2 separate regions of the Homo sapiens genome follow, and region 2 is linked to region 1. The links come from fine-mapping of genetic effects on gene expression. Tissue or cell type: pancreas. Region 1 holds a variant in brackets; the other region holds the start of a gene. All regions are shown on one strand. Distances are from middle to middle.

Evidence for each region. PIP is the estimated chance that this variant, and not a neighbour inherited with it, causes the effect.
Region 2: IGHMBP2 starts here. The variant in region 1 is fine-mapped to the expression of IGHMBP2 in pancreas (GTEx, PIP above 0.99). The same link has a PIP of 0.9 or more in ileum.

Annotation. Positions count from the first base shown.
Region 1 is chr11:68,972,195-68,980,295 of GRCh38, forward strand. MRGPRD (MAS related GPR family member D) reads right to left here. Exons shown (of 1, transcript NM_198923.2): 1 at 7,827-8,101. The coding sequence ends at 7,827. Among named protein-coding and RNA genes, the nearest start is that of MRGPRD, 4.7 kb to the right of the region's middle. RefSeq lists an enhancer at 7,772-8,101. The variant C/A (reference allele first, on the strand shown) is at 3,492.
Region 2 is chr11:68,899,461-68,907,561 of GRCh38, forward strand. It overlaps IGHMBP2 (immunoglobulin mu DNA binding protein 2), which reads left to right and starts at 4,431. Exons shown (of 15, transcript NM_002180.3): 1 at 4,431-4,578; 2 at 6,609-6,778. The coding sequence starts at 4,493. It overlaps MRPL21 (mitochondrial ribosomal protein L21), which reads right to left and starts at 4,372. Exons shown (of 7, transcript NM_181514.2): 1 at 4,263-4,372; 2 at 1,088-1,145. The coding sequence starts at 4,350. RefSeq lists enhancers at 4,245-4,972, 4,404-4,523, 4,854-4,913.

The DNA of each region.
Region 1 (8,101 bases):
CAAAACCCGTCTCCACTAAAACTACAAAAATTACCCGGGCATGATGGTGGGTGCCTGTAATCCCAGCTACTCGGGAGGCTGAGGCAGGAGAATCACTTTAACCCAGGAGGTGGAGGCTGCAGTGAGCCGAGATTGCTCCACTGCACTCCAGCCTGGGCGACAGAGCAAGACTCCATCTCAAAAATAAAAATAAAAATAAAAATAAAAATAAAAAAAAGCAGCAGCAATGACCTGTTGAATGTGCTGGATGGCTTTACTTTAATGCCTCCTCTGAGACACACTTGTGCTGTGCCGCATGCCAAGCATATAGTGGACACCTATTATTGACCCTCTCAGCCTGAGATGGTAGAAGTCTAACTGCCCAATGGGTTCACCTTGCCCATTTAGACAAGAGCCCATTTAGACAGAGCCCATTTATCAAGACGGGAATTGCAATGGAGAAAGAGTAATTCATGCAGAGCTGGCTGTGCAGGAGACTGGAGTTTTAATAATTCTCAAATCAGTCTCTCTGAGCATTTGGGGATCAGAGTTTTTAAAGATCATTTGGTGGGTAGGGGCTTGGGAAGTGGGGAGTGCTGATTGGTCAGGCTGGAGATGGAATCACAGGGGATCAAAGTAAGTTTTTCTTGCCGTCTTTTGTTCCTGGGTGGGATGGCAGAACTGGTTGAACAAGACTACCGGTCTGAGTGGTGTCAACTGGTCCATCGAGTGCAAGGTCTGCAAAATATCTCAAGCACTGATCTTAGGTTTTACAATAGTGATATTATCCTCAGGAGCAATTTGGGGAGGTTCAGACTCTTGGAGCCAGAGACTGCATGACCCCTAAACTGTAATTTCTAATCTTGTAGCTAATTTGTTAGTCCTGCAAAGGCAGACTGGTCCCCAGGCAAGAAGGGGGTCTTTTTGGGAAAGGGCTGTTATCAATTTTGTTTCAGAGTCAAACCATGAACTGAATTCCTTCCCAAAGTTAGTTGGGCCTATGCCCAGGAATGAACAGGACAGCTAAAAGGTTCGAAGCAAGACAGAGTTGGTTAGGTCTGATTTCTTTCACTGTCATAATTTCCACAGTTATAATTTTTGCAAAGGTCGCTTCAATCAGAAGGAGCTGGAGCCAACAGTCAAGGAGCGGCCAGAGGAATTTGATTCCAGGGCTGGTTCTGCCACTTGGCAGCTGTCACTATCTAAGGGAGACAATGTTCCCACCTACCTCAGGGAGTGACCTGAAGGTTAAATCAGACCATGATGTTCTGTCTCATGTGCACGGATGAGGGAGAGGAGGCCTCAGGTCGTGACAACTGGCCAGTGTGCCCCAAAGACTGGACAGAAAGTAAAAGCTCAGACATTCACCTGGGGTCCACAACAGAGACAGGCACATAATAGGGGTCTGAGAAATGTTTATTCAGTGCATGAATAAGTTATGTTAACATCCTGTTAATTTCAGAGCATCAGTTCCTAGACAGTATCACAAATGGCAACATGAAGAGTTAGGGAAAAAGAAAACAGCATGAATTTGCATCGTGGGGCAATGCTTTGGCGTATTGATTGTGCCTTGCTTTTCCTGCAGTCCTTTTCTGCCCCTTTCTTTCCTTTCTTGCAAACAAGGCAGGAGCTGCTCTGGTTGAGACAGTGAGAACTTGCCTATATCACCTCTCCTGGCCCACCAGAGTGCATGGCTGTGTGTCTGGAATTGGTGGGTTCTTGGTCTCACTGACTCCAAGAATGAAGCCGTGGACCCTTGCGGTGAGCGTTACAGCTCTTAAGGTGGTGCGTCTGGAGTTTGTTCCTTCTGATGTTCGGATGTGTTCAGAGTTTCTTCCTTCTGGTGGGTTCGTGGTCTCACTGGCTCAGGAGTGAAGCTGCGGACCTTCGCGGTGAGTGTTACAGCTCTGAAGGCGGCATGTCTGGAGTTGTTCGTTCCTCCCAGTGGGTTCGTGGTCTCACTGGCTTCAGGAGTGAAGCTGCAGACCTTCGCAGTGAGTGTTACAGCTCATAAAGGCAGTGTGGACCCAAAGAGTGAGCAGTAGCAAGATGTATTGCAAAGAGCGAAGGAACAAAGCTTCCACAGTGTGGAAGGGGACCTGAGCGGATTGACACTGCTGGCTCCGGCAGCCTGCTTTTATTCTCCTATCTGGCACCACCCACATCCTGCTGATTGGTAGAGCCAAGTGGTCTGTTTTGACAGGGCACTGATTGGTGCGTTTACAATCCCTGAGCTAGGCCCAGCGAGAAATTGAGCGCAGCACCAGTGGGATAGCACTGCTGGGGGACCCAGTACACCCTCCGCAGCCGCTGGCCTGGGTGCTAAGCCCCTCATTGCCTGGGGCCGGCCAGCTGCTCCGAGTGCGGGGCCCGCCAAGCCCACTCGCACCTGGAACTCCAGCTGGCCCGCAAGCGCCGTGCCCAGCCCCGGTTCTTGCTCGCGCCTCTCCCTCCACACCTCCCTGCAATCTGAGGGAGCCGGCTCCAGCCTTGGCCAGCCCAGAAAGGGGCTCCCACAGTGCAGTGGTGGGCTGAAGGGCTCCTCTAGTGCCGCCAAAGTGGGAGCCCAGGCAGAGGAGGCGCCGAGAGCGAGCGAGGGCTGTGATGACTGCCAGCACGCTGTCACCTCTCAGCTGGACTACATTTCCCAGACTCCTCTGTGGTATGGGTCACATGACTGAACTCCAGCCAGTGGAATGCTTCATGGTAGAGGCCTGCCATGTTTGACCTCTCCTCTTTTCTCCTCCCATCCTCTGGCTGAATGAGAGGCCATGAGGATCTGGCAGAGGGCAGAGCCATAAGGTAGAAGTGAGGTAGGAGGTGGACCACGACTCCAGAGGCAGGGTTTGAACTTTTGGCCAGATTGGAAGACTTTTGGCCAGATTGAAGACAGGGAAGAGGGGAAAGCACCTGACCTTAAGACACACCCACCAGTGCCATGTCAGTTTGCCATTGCCATGGCAACACCTGGAAGTTACCGCCCCTTTTCCATGACCAGGATCTGATAACCTAGAAGTTACCACCTTATTTCTAGAAATTTCTGCATAATCTACCCCTTAACTTGCATATAATTGAAAGTGGGTATAGGCCAGGTGTGGTGGCTCACACTTGTAATCTCAGCACTGTGGGAGGCTGAGACAGGTGGATTGCTTAAGCCCAGGAGTTCAAGATCAGCCTGGGCAACATAGTGAGACCTCCTTTCTATAAAAAATATAAAAATTAGCTGGGCGTGATGGTGTGCAGCTGTAATCCCAGCTACTATGGAGACTTAGTGAGGAGGATACCTGACCTTGGGAGGCAGAAGTTGCAGTGAGTTGAGATTGCACCACTGCACTCCAGCCTGGGCAACAGAGCAAGATCTATCTCAAAAAAAAATTTTTTTTTAAAAAGTGGGTGTAAATATGAGTGCAGCACAGCCTCTGAGCTGCTGATCTGGACACACTGCCTATGGGGTAGTGTGCTTTGCAAGGAGCAGTACCTCTGCCACTTCAATGAAAGTTGCTGTCTTAACA[C/A]CACTGGCTCACCTTTTTTTTTTTTTTTGAGATGGAGTTTTGCTCTTTTTGCCCAGGCTGGAGTGCAGTGCAATGGCCTGATCTCGGCTCACCGCAACCTCCGCCTCCCGGGTTCAAGCGATTCTCCTGCCTCAACCTCCCAAGTAGCTGGGATTACAGGCATGCACTACCATGCCCGGCTAATTTTGCATTTTTCGTAGAGACAGGGTTTCACCATGTTGGTCAGGCTGGTCTCGAACTCCCGACCTTAGGTGATCCACCCGCCTCGGCCTCCCAAAGTGCTGGGATTACAGGCGTGAGCCACCGTGCCCGGCACCACTGGCTCACCTTGAATTCTTTCCTGGGCAAAGCCAAGAACTCTCCTGGCTGAGCCCCAGTTTGGGGGCTCACCTGTCCTACATCATCAGAAGCCTGGGTCTCTGAGTGACAGAGTAGAGCAGAGCCTCCCATCCACCTGCATTGGTCTATGGTATAAGCAAGAAAACTTTCATTATGCTGCACCATGAGATTTGAGAACGCTTTATTACAGCAATTAGCCAGTGGAGGTGATGGAAGTTGCAGATAAATTTGGGACTCTGGGAACAAAAATCAGGTGACCTGATAATGGCTGCCACAGGAAGTAGATAACGACAAGGATGGAGGAGACAATGTCCAGTCCGTGGGAGGCCACGACTGAGAGGCAACTCCTGGGATGGGGAGTGGGGAGCCTGGAGTTGACTGGGCCCTTCCTGAACTGACTGCACCCAAGTCTCTGCCAAGAGTCCTACTGGGGGCTCCAGAGAAAGGAAAGTACCATGATAGAAAATAAAGAACTTGGTACTGTTTGCCTCCTGACGCTGTGGTCTGCAGCATTTATGTATGCTTTGTTCATCTCTATTAAACAAGCAATCTGGAAGCCACCTATTTCCAAACCAAACCAAGCTGTGTTTGTTGGCCTGATCAAGCTGTTCTTGTCAGGAATTCCTTTCTGGAATCACTTTTGATTGTTTAGAACATGTGTTCTTGATCCAGTTTCCTGCGGCAGCCCGCAGGGGCCTCAGGGGGAGTGCAGGGTGAGGTTGATTGTTCCCATTACACAGCTGGGGAAGAAGAGGCCACAGGGGGGAATACCTGGCCTGAGGGAACCCAGAAGGCAGAGGGGAGCCCCCGTCTCCTCACTCCCAGAGCCAGGCCCTGTCCCCATCAGTGAGTGGTGGGAGGACCCTCATCCTCCCTCCGCATCTGGTTCCCACCTGGGACCCCACAGGGCTGAACCTTGGGATGGGATTGGGGAAATCGGGGGCTCAACAAGAAAACTTGTTTCAGCAAAGGATTGAGCTGTCAGACAGTGTGGACTATGCTACTGGAATTTTATGGTTATTCACACGGAAATCTCCAGCGCTCTAGTGTGGCCAGAGGGCTCGCTGCTCCTGGTTGGATCCAGGGTTTATGGAACCTAAAATTTCTACAGGATTTGGGGCCCTTTTTAAGGGGGAAGAAAAGAAGGAAGGAAAGTTACAAATACAAAATTAGGTATGAAAATGAATACTTATTTAGAATGAGAAAGTAAATCAAACATTGTTTTTTAAGCAAGAGCAGGTAACACAAACTTCATAAAATATTAAAAGCCCTATAATATTTTTAATAATTAGCTGCTTAACAAACCTTTCTAATATTTGTCCTACATTTTTGGCTGCATACTGTTGCTTGCCTCTTCATAGATCAATTTTGTACACTTTCTATGGAGAAAAGAGAAAGATAATTGTGTTTTTCCTCATTGATTGGATTTATTTTAAGTGAGTGATAGCTGGATACATAAAACATGCAACTTCACACAGAGACGTTTTTGCCATTTGTATTCCTGCTCCAGCATTTTGGATACAAAAACAGGGTGTCTCATGAATGGTACTTTCACATTTCCCAGGAGAAAAGAGGTATGGTATGTGTTCTGATTACACATGCTGCATTAGCAAGGATCTTGCTAACAGGTGAGACCTGCTCTGAGCAGGCACCCGTGAGAACAGAACCCCCCATTTAGAGTTGTACATCTGGGGATTGGAGGATTCTTCTATAAGCTAGCTTCTGATTCTGTACATTTCAAATCTTATTTCTTCTCTGTTACCCACTCCCCCACATACTTCCTTTATCTGTTCATTTTTTCAGGCAGCTCTTTGCACGATGCCCGGGGAGCTGGCACAGCAGGCAGTGGCAACGTTTCTGGGAGCCATTCCTACCCTGGGGTGCTAGCAATTGCCTAACCACACACAGAAGTGATCGGAAACCACATAAATGCACCTCACTAAGCCCAAACTGCAGGGACCCCCTAACTCCTCTTCCACTCAGCCCCACCCCCCAAATACCTGTGGGCACACCAGTGCCACCTGACCTAAAGTGGAGTGTGATGGAGGTACCGGAGTAGAAGGTCTAACAGATATATCATTTTATATGTTTTATCGAAACATAACATCATTGTGTGAACAATTTCTAGGGCTCCTCCCCTTGCAAATGAGGGGCCCTGTGGTAGCCACTGAGTGCTAAGAAGCGAGATGTTCTTCCTACCAACCGTCGGCTTTAGACTGGGCCACCTCGTGGCTGCCCAGGTTGGAGAAGGGTTGTGAAGCATGGGGTTTGTAGTCAGAAGATATGGGTTGGATCCTGGACAAAACGTGGGCTGTAAAGCACTGTACAGGCATCAGTTACTCTTACTGGCCAAATGAGCACTTGTTAAGTGCATCTGGCATTTGAGGCCAGTGCTGGTACCAAGTGCTCCGCTAAATGCTGGAACGACTGAGAAAGAGCCACCACTCTGCCTCGCATGCTTCTCTGGGACACACAGACCTGGGGGCCTGAGCCCTAGGTGGGAAAGCACTCAGAGGTAATTTCTCCTTCTGGGAGGGCTGCACAGCCCCCAGCCCAGGGCAATGAACAAACAGGGGGAGCCCAGGAAGGGGAGTCCTGTCCAGGGCACAGTCTTCGAGTCCCCAGGACACCATCACCTGCCACGGCACAGAACCGCAGGCTGTGAGAGTTGATTCCAGGGGTGTATTTTATAGCTTACTGATGAGCTGTCCTCTCCTGTCTCAGGATCTGACCTGTGCCCTGGCTGGCTCGAAGGCTCCATCTTTTGGGAGGAGACTGAAAACTGCTTCAGAAAGATGCCAAGAGAAAGAACAAGATCATTTTCACCTTCTGACATGAAAAACAGGATGACGCAGCCAGGTGCCAGGCTTGCAGGCCAGGCTGTGGTCTGGAGACAGGATCTTTCCACTTCCGTCTTTCCTCCTCCCTCACCTCTTTAAGTCCAGGACTGACTCTGCAGGGACCTCCTGTCTTGCACCCCCTCCATGCAAGCCCCGAGCCTCGAGGCTGGATGCTGGGTGGTAGGAAAGGGCTGTGATTTGTGGAAAGTGCAGGAAACATCTGCCTTGTTCTGGACCCAGGGGACTGTGGGAAGGAAAGGGGGAGGGAGGAGAGTGGAGCCAGCTGATGTGTGTCCCAGATGTTCCGTCTTTGGGCTTTTGGGCAAAGTGAGGGGGCCCTGGGAGGGACAGTCAGTGAGGTATGAGACTCTGGCTCTGGGGGACACTGCCTGGAAGGCTGCCCTCCACTGCCTGGGGCACTGTCCTATCAGCATCTGCTGGAGTGACTGCCAGTGAAGCCAGGCAGAGGCTCTTCCCTTCCCAGTGCGGCCTGGAGGAAAGCGAACAGGCCTGCCCTGGGTGCGAGGGGTGACAGGGTAAGGCGACCTCATAGCAAATGCCAGGGGTCAAGGGCTGGCCAGGGGTCAGAGGGATGGTGGGGCAGAGTCTCATGGCCCACAGCCAGCGAGATCCGGGTCGGCGATGGCGACACCGTTTACTTGCCAGACTTCAGGCACACCTGGGGAAAGGTGCACGGGGGCACCACCTTGGTGGCCAGTTGATGCCACCCAAGGACCAGCATAGGGCCAAAGATCACCCGAGGTCACCTGCCTCCTCCACAAAGATGCCGTCTTAGGCAGAGAAGGTGGTTGGGAGAAAGCTTTCATATTCAAATGAGATTCCTGTTATCCACCCATAGATAACCAGCTTAAAGCAGGGTAGGGCTAAAAGCTAATATTTTCCCCCAACCAGATAATCTGCTATAAACAAATAAATTGCATCTTCCAGCGGGGTTGCATTGTGAGATCCAGGACACAGGTGTTGTGGGGAGTTTTGACATGCAGGGAAGTGACCCCCACATGCAGCTGCAAAGTCCTTGGGGCTCCCCCAAGAAGGCGGGCCAGACACTTGGCAGGGACGAGGTGGGAGGCAGCTCACGGCTCGGGAATCTCCAGGGCATGGGCTCGCACAGGTGGGAAGCACCTGTGGGCGGCTCTCAAGCCCCCATCTCATTGGTGCCCACGGTGGGCGTCTCCCCACCTTCCAGCTCGGGCTCCTCGCGAAGCGCCTGTTGGAGCACAGTCCCCAGGGACCTGGTGGGCAGCCTGTGGCTCCTCCGGCTGCCCACCAGGAAGTAGATGACGGGGTTGGCGCTGCTGCTTACGGACGAGGAGAGGCGTGACAAGCTGAAGCACAGGACCTGCATCTCGGGCGGCAGGCTCAACCAGTAGAGCACAAACCAGTAGATGCTCAGAGGCAGGGAACAGATGA
Region 2 (8,101 bases), 73 kb before region 1:
TCCCAGTGGGGTAGGGCTTGGAGCTCCTAGAGACATGAACTCCGTGATCTGTGGTTGGTCAATGACCTTGAGAGACAAGGAGGACAAGGAAGGTGCTGCTCTCTACAAAACGTCTTTGACCTGTTTGATGTCTAGTCTCCCCATACGGGTTCAGCAGTGCCCAGTGTGAGAAGAACACGCTGGCAGGAAGGTGCTAACCTCTCACACAGGACACAGGGGTAGTAGGCACAACCTACCCACATGCTCACTTACAACTTCTTCCTATGCTCAGAATGTTTTGCCGCTTCTTTGAGAAGCAAGAAAGACTCCCACATCTCCCCACTGCAGAGGATCCCTGGAGTCCCAGCAGCAGTTCCAGCAGCCAATGTTTTGTGAGTGCTGACTGTATGCCAGGCACTGTTCTAAGAGCTTTAAATGTATACATTTACTTAATCCTCTCCAACACCCATGCAGATAGAAATGAACATTACTTCCATCTTGCAGAAGCCTGGCGTCCCAGGCTGTGAGGGGCAGCCGGAACTGCACCCCGGGGGGGTCCCTACAGTAACTGCTATCCCTGCACTGCTCCTGTGTCTCCCACCAGTGAGTGGAACTTTGTCGAATGTTTTCTGCAGTTTATGATACCTAAAAATGTTTTCTCAAGTATAAAATTTTAACACTGAATGTGCTTTTTCAAATAATGAGTTTCTCTTAGAGACTCTGATACAAACTTCCTCATCAGAAATCTTGAGTTAAGACTTCAAGCTCCTCCATAATAAAAGAGAGCAAACACATACAGAATTTCTCTTTGGTCTCTTGCAGTTACGTCTTCTTTTAAGGGTCTCAGAAAAATACCGTCAAAAAAGTTAAAGCTGAAAGTGGTGGTGCATGCCTGTAATCCCAGCTACTCAGGAGGCTGAGGCGGGAGGACCACTTTAGGCCAGGAGTTCAAAACCAGTCTGGGAAACATAGTGAAACTCTGTCTCTTAAAAACAAAAGAGGAAATTTAAATATTATTGAGAACCAAAAGGTAGGAAGTTTTGACTTTAGAAAGATGGTTCTACAAATGAAAGGAAAAGAGGCACCAAAACCCACATTTTGATATTACCCTGGTAGATATGAAGTGCTCTGTGAATTGAACCTTCGAGAAGCAGACCAAAGGGAGGCTGAGGGAAGAAGAGAAACACAGATCATTACCATTAATACTACAAATGCAAACTGCCCTTTATGATGCTAAATGCACAGCTGCTGCTCCTGGTACATGGTATGAACCACTGCATGACAGCCTGCCCACAGAAACACCTAGGTGAGCAAAACTACAAGAACGTCACTTACAGCTACTGGTTATATGTGTTGAGATCAGTTAGCCACATCATCTACAAGCGCCTGAGACCAGAACCACCCGTCCACTAACTCATGCCTTGACTAAGTGCCTGGTAGGTTCAGACTCTGATCTGTGCCCAAGCGTGGGAGCAGCCTCCAAGATGGCCCTGCTGGGCCCCGCCTCCTGCTATTCTTACCCCTGTTAGCCCCCTGGGAGTGGCCTGTGTGTCCAACAGCTAGTGACAGACATGCTAGCACGTGGCTTCTGGGATGAGGTGATAACCAACTGGGACTTCCATCTTGGATGCCTGTGCTCACCCTTTCTGATCTCTGGCCTTAGGGCTGCCCTGCTGTGAGCAGCCCTACCTAGAGGTCCACATGGCGGGGAACTAGGCCTATCGCCAACACCCATGGGAACGACCTTGCAGGTAGATTCTCCAGCCGCTGGCGCAGTGGAGTCTTGAGATAACTACAGCCCCTGCAGACTTGCTTGCTGCAAGCTAAGACCCTGAGCCAGAACCAGCCACTTAAGCTGCTTCTGTGTTCCTGGCTCTCAGAACTGGTGTGAGTTAATAAATGTTTTAAGCTGCTAAGTTTTGGGGTAATTTCTGATGTAACCGTAGATAACGCATACACCAGGAATACACCAGGAAACAAAGACATTCAATCTACTGAGAAGACAGGGGATCAAAATAAGTGCTTAGGTGTAAAAAGCAGAGAACAGTTTCTCAATAACCACTTTTAAAGAAACTCAGCTATAATTTACACACCATAAAAACCACCTTTTTAAAGTTCACCCATTAGCACCAGCTCCCCATTTGCATCTCCTCGGCTGCTTTCTCCTCTCCTCTCCCATTTGGGCATCCGGGGCTCAACCCTTGGCCTTGACCTCCTCTCCGCCCATGGCCATTCCTCTGGTGACTGCATCCAGTCCGATGGATTTAAACACCCCCAATGTGCTGGTGACTCCCAAGTTTACACCTCCAGCCAGGGCTTCTCTCCTGGTTTTGCATACCCACCTATCTATCTGCCTTAGCCACTCGTGTCTGACGAGCACCTCACACCTCCAGAGGCTCCTCATTTCTTCCCATGCCTGCTTCTCCCACACTCCTCCCTCTCACATGAGGGCAACTTCATCCTCCCAGTTGCTCAGGCCCCAAACCTCCATCAGTTTTGACTCTTCTCTCGCACACTACTCAGTCAACCCATTGGCAAATCCATCCCACTATTAAAAACTTAGCAGGCTTCTGTACCTAATTTGCTTCTAGCTTTGTTTTTGGGTCCCCAGGGAACAAACAGTCTCCTTCCTCTCCCACAGGATTTCCTTTAGGTAGTCCTAGAGACTGTGACTGTGTACTTCCATCACGTCTCCTTTGCTCACTCTTCAAGGCCCCAGCTGCTCACTGTTTTGGTCACCTTGTCTCTACTCGCTTCACTGTGTGTCTTTCTCTCCTAATGCGTGAGTCTGTACTTGAACATAGCATTGGAGGGGTGGTTTCATGTAGGTAGGTAGAATGGAGTAAGTCCCACTGCTTTTGTAAAAACTTTCCTGCCTACTTAAACCTAAGTTTTATTATGGAAAATGTCAAGCATACAAAAGTAAAGAGAACAGAATAGTGAACTCTCTCAATTATCCCTTTCCAGGTTCAACAGTTACCAACTCATGGCCAATTTTGGCATCTACATTGCCTCTGGCCCAACTCTGTGATTATTATTAATTTCTTAATAGACTTTATTTTTTAGCACAGTTTTAGTTTCACACCAAAATTGAGTGGAAGGTACAGAGAGTTCCCATATGTCCCCTGTCCATGTGCCCACAGCTTCCTATCAACATCCCTCACCAGAGTGGTACAATCTTTACAATTGATGAACCTACATTGACACATCATTGTTATCCAAAGTCCATAGTCTACATTAGGGGTTCACCCTTGGTAGTGTACATTCTATGGATTTGGACAAACTTATAATGACATGTATCTACCATTATATCATACAGAATAGTTTCACTGCCCTAAAAATCCTCTGAGCTCCACCTATTTATCCTTTTCTCCCCCAATCCTCTTACCCCCCATGTAACTTTTTACTGTCTCCTTAGATTTGCCTTTTCCAGAATGTCATAGTGGGAAACATACAAGATGTCCCCTTTTCAGGTTGGCTTCTTTTACTTAGTAACATGTATGTAAGTTTCCTCCATGTCTCTTCATGACTCATTTCTTTTTATTGCTGCATAATATTCTACTGTATGGATGTCCTACAGTTTATGTAACCATTCATCTCCTGAAGGACATCTGGGTTGCTTCCAAGTTTTGGGAATTATGGTACTATTCTTTTAATATCGTCCAATATAGAGTTAGATCCAGTTTTCCATTTTTGGGGGTCATGGTGAGACATGAAACCCAGGTTTAAAACATACATAAACACTCATGCACACAAATACACACTCCAACCATTTTCAAGCAGAGATTTATAGAGTTTTTAACGGACATAACCTTTTTGGAGCCTCGTATCAGCCCAGCGCCTTAAATACGGCTGTTTCTTTTGCAGAATGAGTTCAGATTAGGCGAGGATATCCATCACCATTTTTCAGACCAGCTCGCAGCCTGGGGGCAGTGGTTCAAGCACAGGCTTTGGAGCCGAAATGACTGCGCCTGAAGTACTCTTCTTCCACTTCCCCGCTGTGTGACCCTGGGCACGTTACCTAGCTCCTCTGAGCCTCACTCTTCTCCCCCATAACATAGGGCCTATACCAAAGTTCAAGGGCTATTGTCAGTATTCAGGCTACTAACTGAAGGAATCAAAATCTGAACCTGGGTTCCCCCGACTCCAAAACCCGTGCTATATTCACCACAAATGCGATCAACACACAAGGCACCAGGTCGGACCCAGGCACATACGTGGCGAGACCGCAGGGAGCAGCGCTCGCTCTGCGTCCTCCCTTCCTCCCATATCCCAGGTCTCACCTGCTCCGGGCCCCGAAGGTCTCAGGATGCTGTGGCTGCACGCGGACGCCAGCCGCCCTAAGGTGACCGTCAGGGAAGATGCTGCCATGGCCGCAGCCTCGGCCGGAAACGGAAACGACGCGAACCGCGTGCGTAACGCACGGGCCCGGCGGGGAACACCGGTCCGCTGTAACACCGGCCCGGCGCAGAAGCGGGACGTCGGCTTCTAGGGGCCCAGGCCGGCGGCGGCGATGGCCTCGGCAGCTGTGGAGAGCTTCGTGACCAAGCAACTGGACCTGCTGGAGCTTGAGAGAGACGCGGAGGTGGAGGAGCGCAGGTACGGGAGGCCGCCGGCGCCGCTCCCTCGCGGTCGGTCCCGCCGTGTCCCGGGCAGAGTCTCCGAGGGGCTCGGCCTCATAGTCTGGGGCGGGAATTTCGTCTCCGACCCTTCGAGTCAGGGGCAGGGATCGTCCGTCCCCTGCTTGGCCACCTCCCGAGTTGTCAGTCTCATCACTTCCTGGGCAGCGCGTTCCGTTTGGGGACCCTTAAGAAGCACTTTGATTTCCCGACCCGAGACCCCCCACTAAGCTTACACTCCTGGGCCCTGGCCCCGACCCCAGTTCCACCCGCAGCGAGTTAGCAGCCCTTTCCCTTATTCATTCAGTAAACATGGTTTGCGCCCATTCTCAGTCAGGCCCCGGCAGCATGAGTCAGGTGCACTGGCTGCCCCCGATCCGGCCAGCGGCGGGCTGGGCATAAGCAGAGAGTCCCTTCCCCTCCAGTGCGTCCAGGGCCGGCTGCGTGCGTGTCGCGGGGAAAGAGCCTGGAGGAGGAAGGCCCTTCCCTGGGGAGGGTCATGGTGGCTTCAAGGAGGGAGTGGTGCCTGAAGGAAAATTGGAGTTAAGCTGGTGGGTGCGGAGTAGGGTGGGGAGCCGTCCTGAGAGGTGTGGGGAGCCATGTGAGAGCCGGGCTTGTTTCCGAATGGGACTATTTACTTGTCCAAAACAATCAGAGCTAACACTTACGTACTTTCCATGCGTTAATTCTTTTACACCTCATCCCATGCCAACCCTACAGTGTAAGTTTCTTTTTTTTCTTTTTCTTTTTTTTTTTTTTAGACAGAGTCTCTCTCTGTCGCCCAGGCTGGAGTGCAGTGGCACGATCTCGGCTTACTGCAGCTTCCATCTCCCGGGTTCAAGCGATTCTCCTGCCTCAGCCTCCTGAGTGGCTGGGACTACAGGCGCGCCACCACGTCCTGCTAATTTTTTGTATTTTTAGTAGAGACAGGGTTTCACCATGTTGGCCAGGATGGTCTCGATCTCCTGACCTCGTGGTCTGCCCGCCTTGGCCTCCCAAAGTGTTGGGATTACAGGCGTGAGCCACCGTGCCCGGCCGCAGTGTAGGTTTCTGTTACTGTCATTTTCCGTCTAAGGAGATGGAGACAGAGAGGGGTTAAGTAACTTGCCCCGGGGTGACACAGTGTAGCCCGATTTGCTGTCAGGCAGTCTGCTTCCAGAGTTTGCAGTCAGCCATATGTGGGTAGGATTTGTCTGAGATGCTTTTGATCATGGCAATGGAGAGCTTTTGCAGTTATGTTGAGTTTCTTAGAATCCCAGCTGTTTCATTTATGGCTGTGTGACTTTGCAGGTTCTGTCTCTGAGCCTTACTTACTTCATCTGTAAAACTGGGATGATTCCCACCTCACAGGCTTGCTCTGAGAATGAAACGATCCCCTGTCAGTCAGGTGCTCAGCGTGGTGCCAAGGACAGAGTCAGCCCCCATGGCAGTGGCTCTTTCTGAGGATGCTGAGCAGACTGGCAGGGCGAGCCTGGGAAGGGCCTGGCTAAGGAGCTAGTCTTCTGTTCTGTGTATGAAGGATGGGCCATCAGCGGGGTTAAGCAGGTGAGGGAGGCGAATAGCTTTGCATTTTAGGAGGATTTCTTGGGTCTCCTGCTTTTGATTGGACGTGGAGAGGCCAGAGGTAAGGTAGTTGAGAGGCTCTGTTTAGTCCAGGTGAGCAGTGATGTGGATTTGAACCGGGGCTGTGGCAGCCAGGATGAGAGGCAGAGAAGTCCAGGTAGAAATGGGAGGGGCCTGATAGGACTTAGTGACAGATGGGAGGAGAGAGGGGAATGCTGATTGAAAGATCTGTCTCAGGTAACTGAGAGAAGGGTTGTGGCATTAACTGCCCTAGGGGGATGTAGGAGGAGCGGGATTGGGAGTGGAGCCAATTCGGAGTTCCATTGGGACATATTTAGTGCCTGTGAGTAGATCTTTATCTATGTTTCTTTCTCTTTTACTTTTCCTGGGTGGGTGGAAGTAGAAACTAGTAAAAATCCTGAAGCATCAATACCGGGTGTCTTCCAGGTCCTGGCAGGAGAACATCTCTCTGAAAGAGCTCCAGAGCCGAGGCGTGTGTTTGCTGAAGCTGCAGGTATCCAGCCAGCGCACTGGGCTGTACGGACGGCTGCTGGTCACCTTTGAGCCCAGGCGATACGGGTCCGCGGCAGCTCTTCCCAGTAACAGCTTTACTTCTGGTGTGTGCGTATTGACCTAGACAGACATTGAAATTTACTGGCATTCAGACCGTGACTTGTACCCTCGTAAAGACTGGATTAAAATGACCAGTTGGAGAATAAAGCGTTGCAATGAAGAACTCTTAATCAGAAGTCCAACAATTGATGTGGGTTTTAGTTGTCTAGATCAGCGTTGTCCAAAATGGTAGCCATTAGCCATGCGTGGTCATCAAATGTTTGAAGTGTGGCTTGTAATTGCCGCAGATACAGAATACACACCAAATTTGGAAGATTATGTTAAAAAAACAATTGGGAATATCTTGAGTAATTTTTCTGAATACTGATTACATGTTGAAATAATATTTTTCATATATTGGGTTAAATAAAAAATATCTTATTAAAATAATTTACCCATTTCTTTTCTTTTTTTTTTTTTTTTTTTGAGACAGAGTTTCGCTCTTATTGCCCAGTCTGGAGTGCAGTGGCATGATCTCGGCTCACTGCAACCTCCGCCTCCGGGGTTCAAGTGATTCTCCTGCCTCAGCCTCCCGAGTAGCTGGGATTAGAGGCATGCGCCACCGTGCCTGGCTAATTTTGTATTTTTAGTAGAGACGGGGTTTCTCCATGTTGTTCAGGCTGGTCTCGAACTCCCAACTTCAGGTGATCCGCCTGCTTTGGCCTCCCAAAGTGCTGGGATTACAGGTGTGAGCCAGTGCACCCAGCCTCTTTTAAATTTCTTAATATGGCTACTAGAAAACTTAAAACTACACGTGACTGGGTGCCTGTAATCCTAGCACTTTGGGAGGCCGAGGTGGGTGGATCACTTGATCTCAGGAGTTCGAGACCAGCCTGGGCAACGTGGCAAAACCCCATCTCTGCAAAAAAATAGAAAAATTAGCCAGATGTGGTGGTGTGTGCCTGTAGTTCCTGCTACTTGATGGGCTGAGGCAGGAGGATCGCTTGAACCTGGGAGGTTGAGGCTGCAGTGAGCTGAAATCACGCCACTGCACTCTAGCTTGGGGGCAAAGTGAGACCCTCTCTCAAAACAGACAAAAACAAAAGAAAAACTACATGTGACTCTCTTTATGTTTCTATGTAATGGGCAGCCTTGGTCCAGCTGGTAAACATGCAGGATGTGTACTTCTGTATTCCCAACCCTTTCTTGTGCCAAGCATGCTTTGGCTAAACTTGTGCCAGCCTGGTTGGAAAGGAGGGACAGTTAGAAGAAGCTTCTTAACCACACGCCTGGGATGCTTGTGTTAGACAACCACAGCCTTGGAAGCCTGGAGGAAGCAGCGTTGCCAGGGCTGTACTTTTTACTATGGAAGTGTCTCTGCCTTGTTT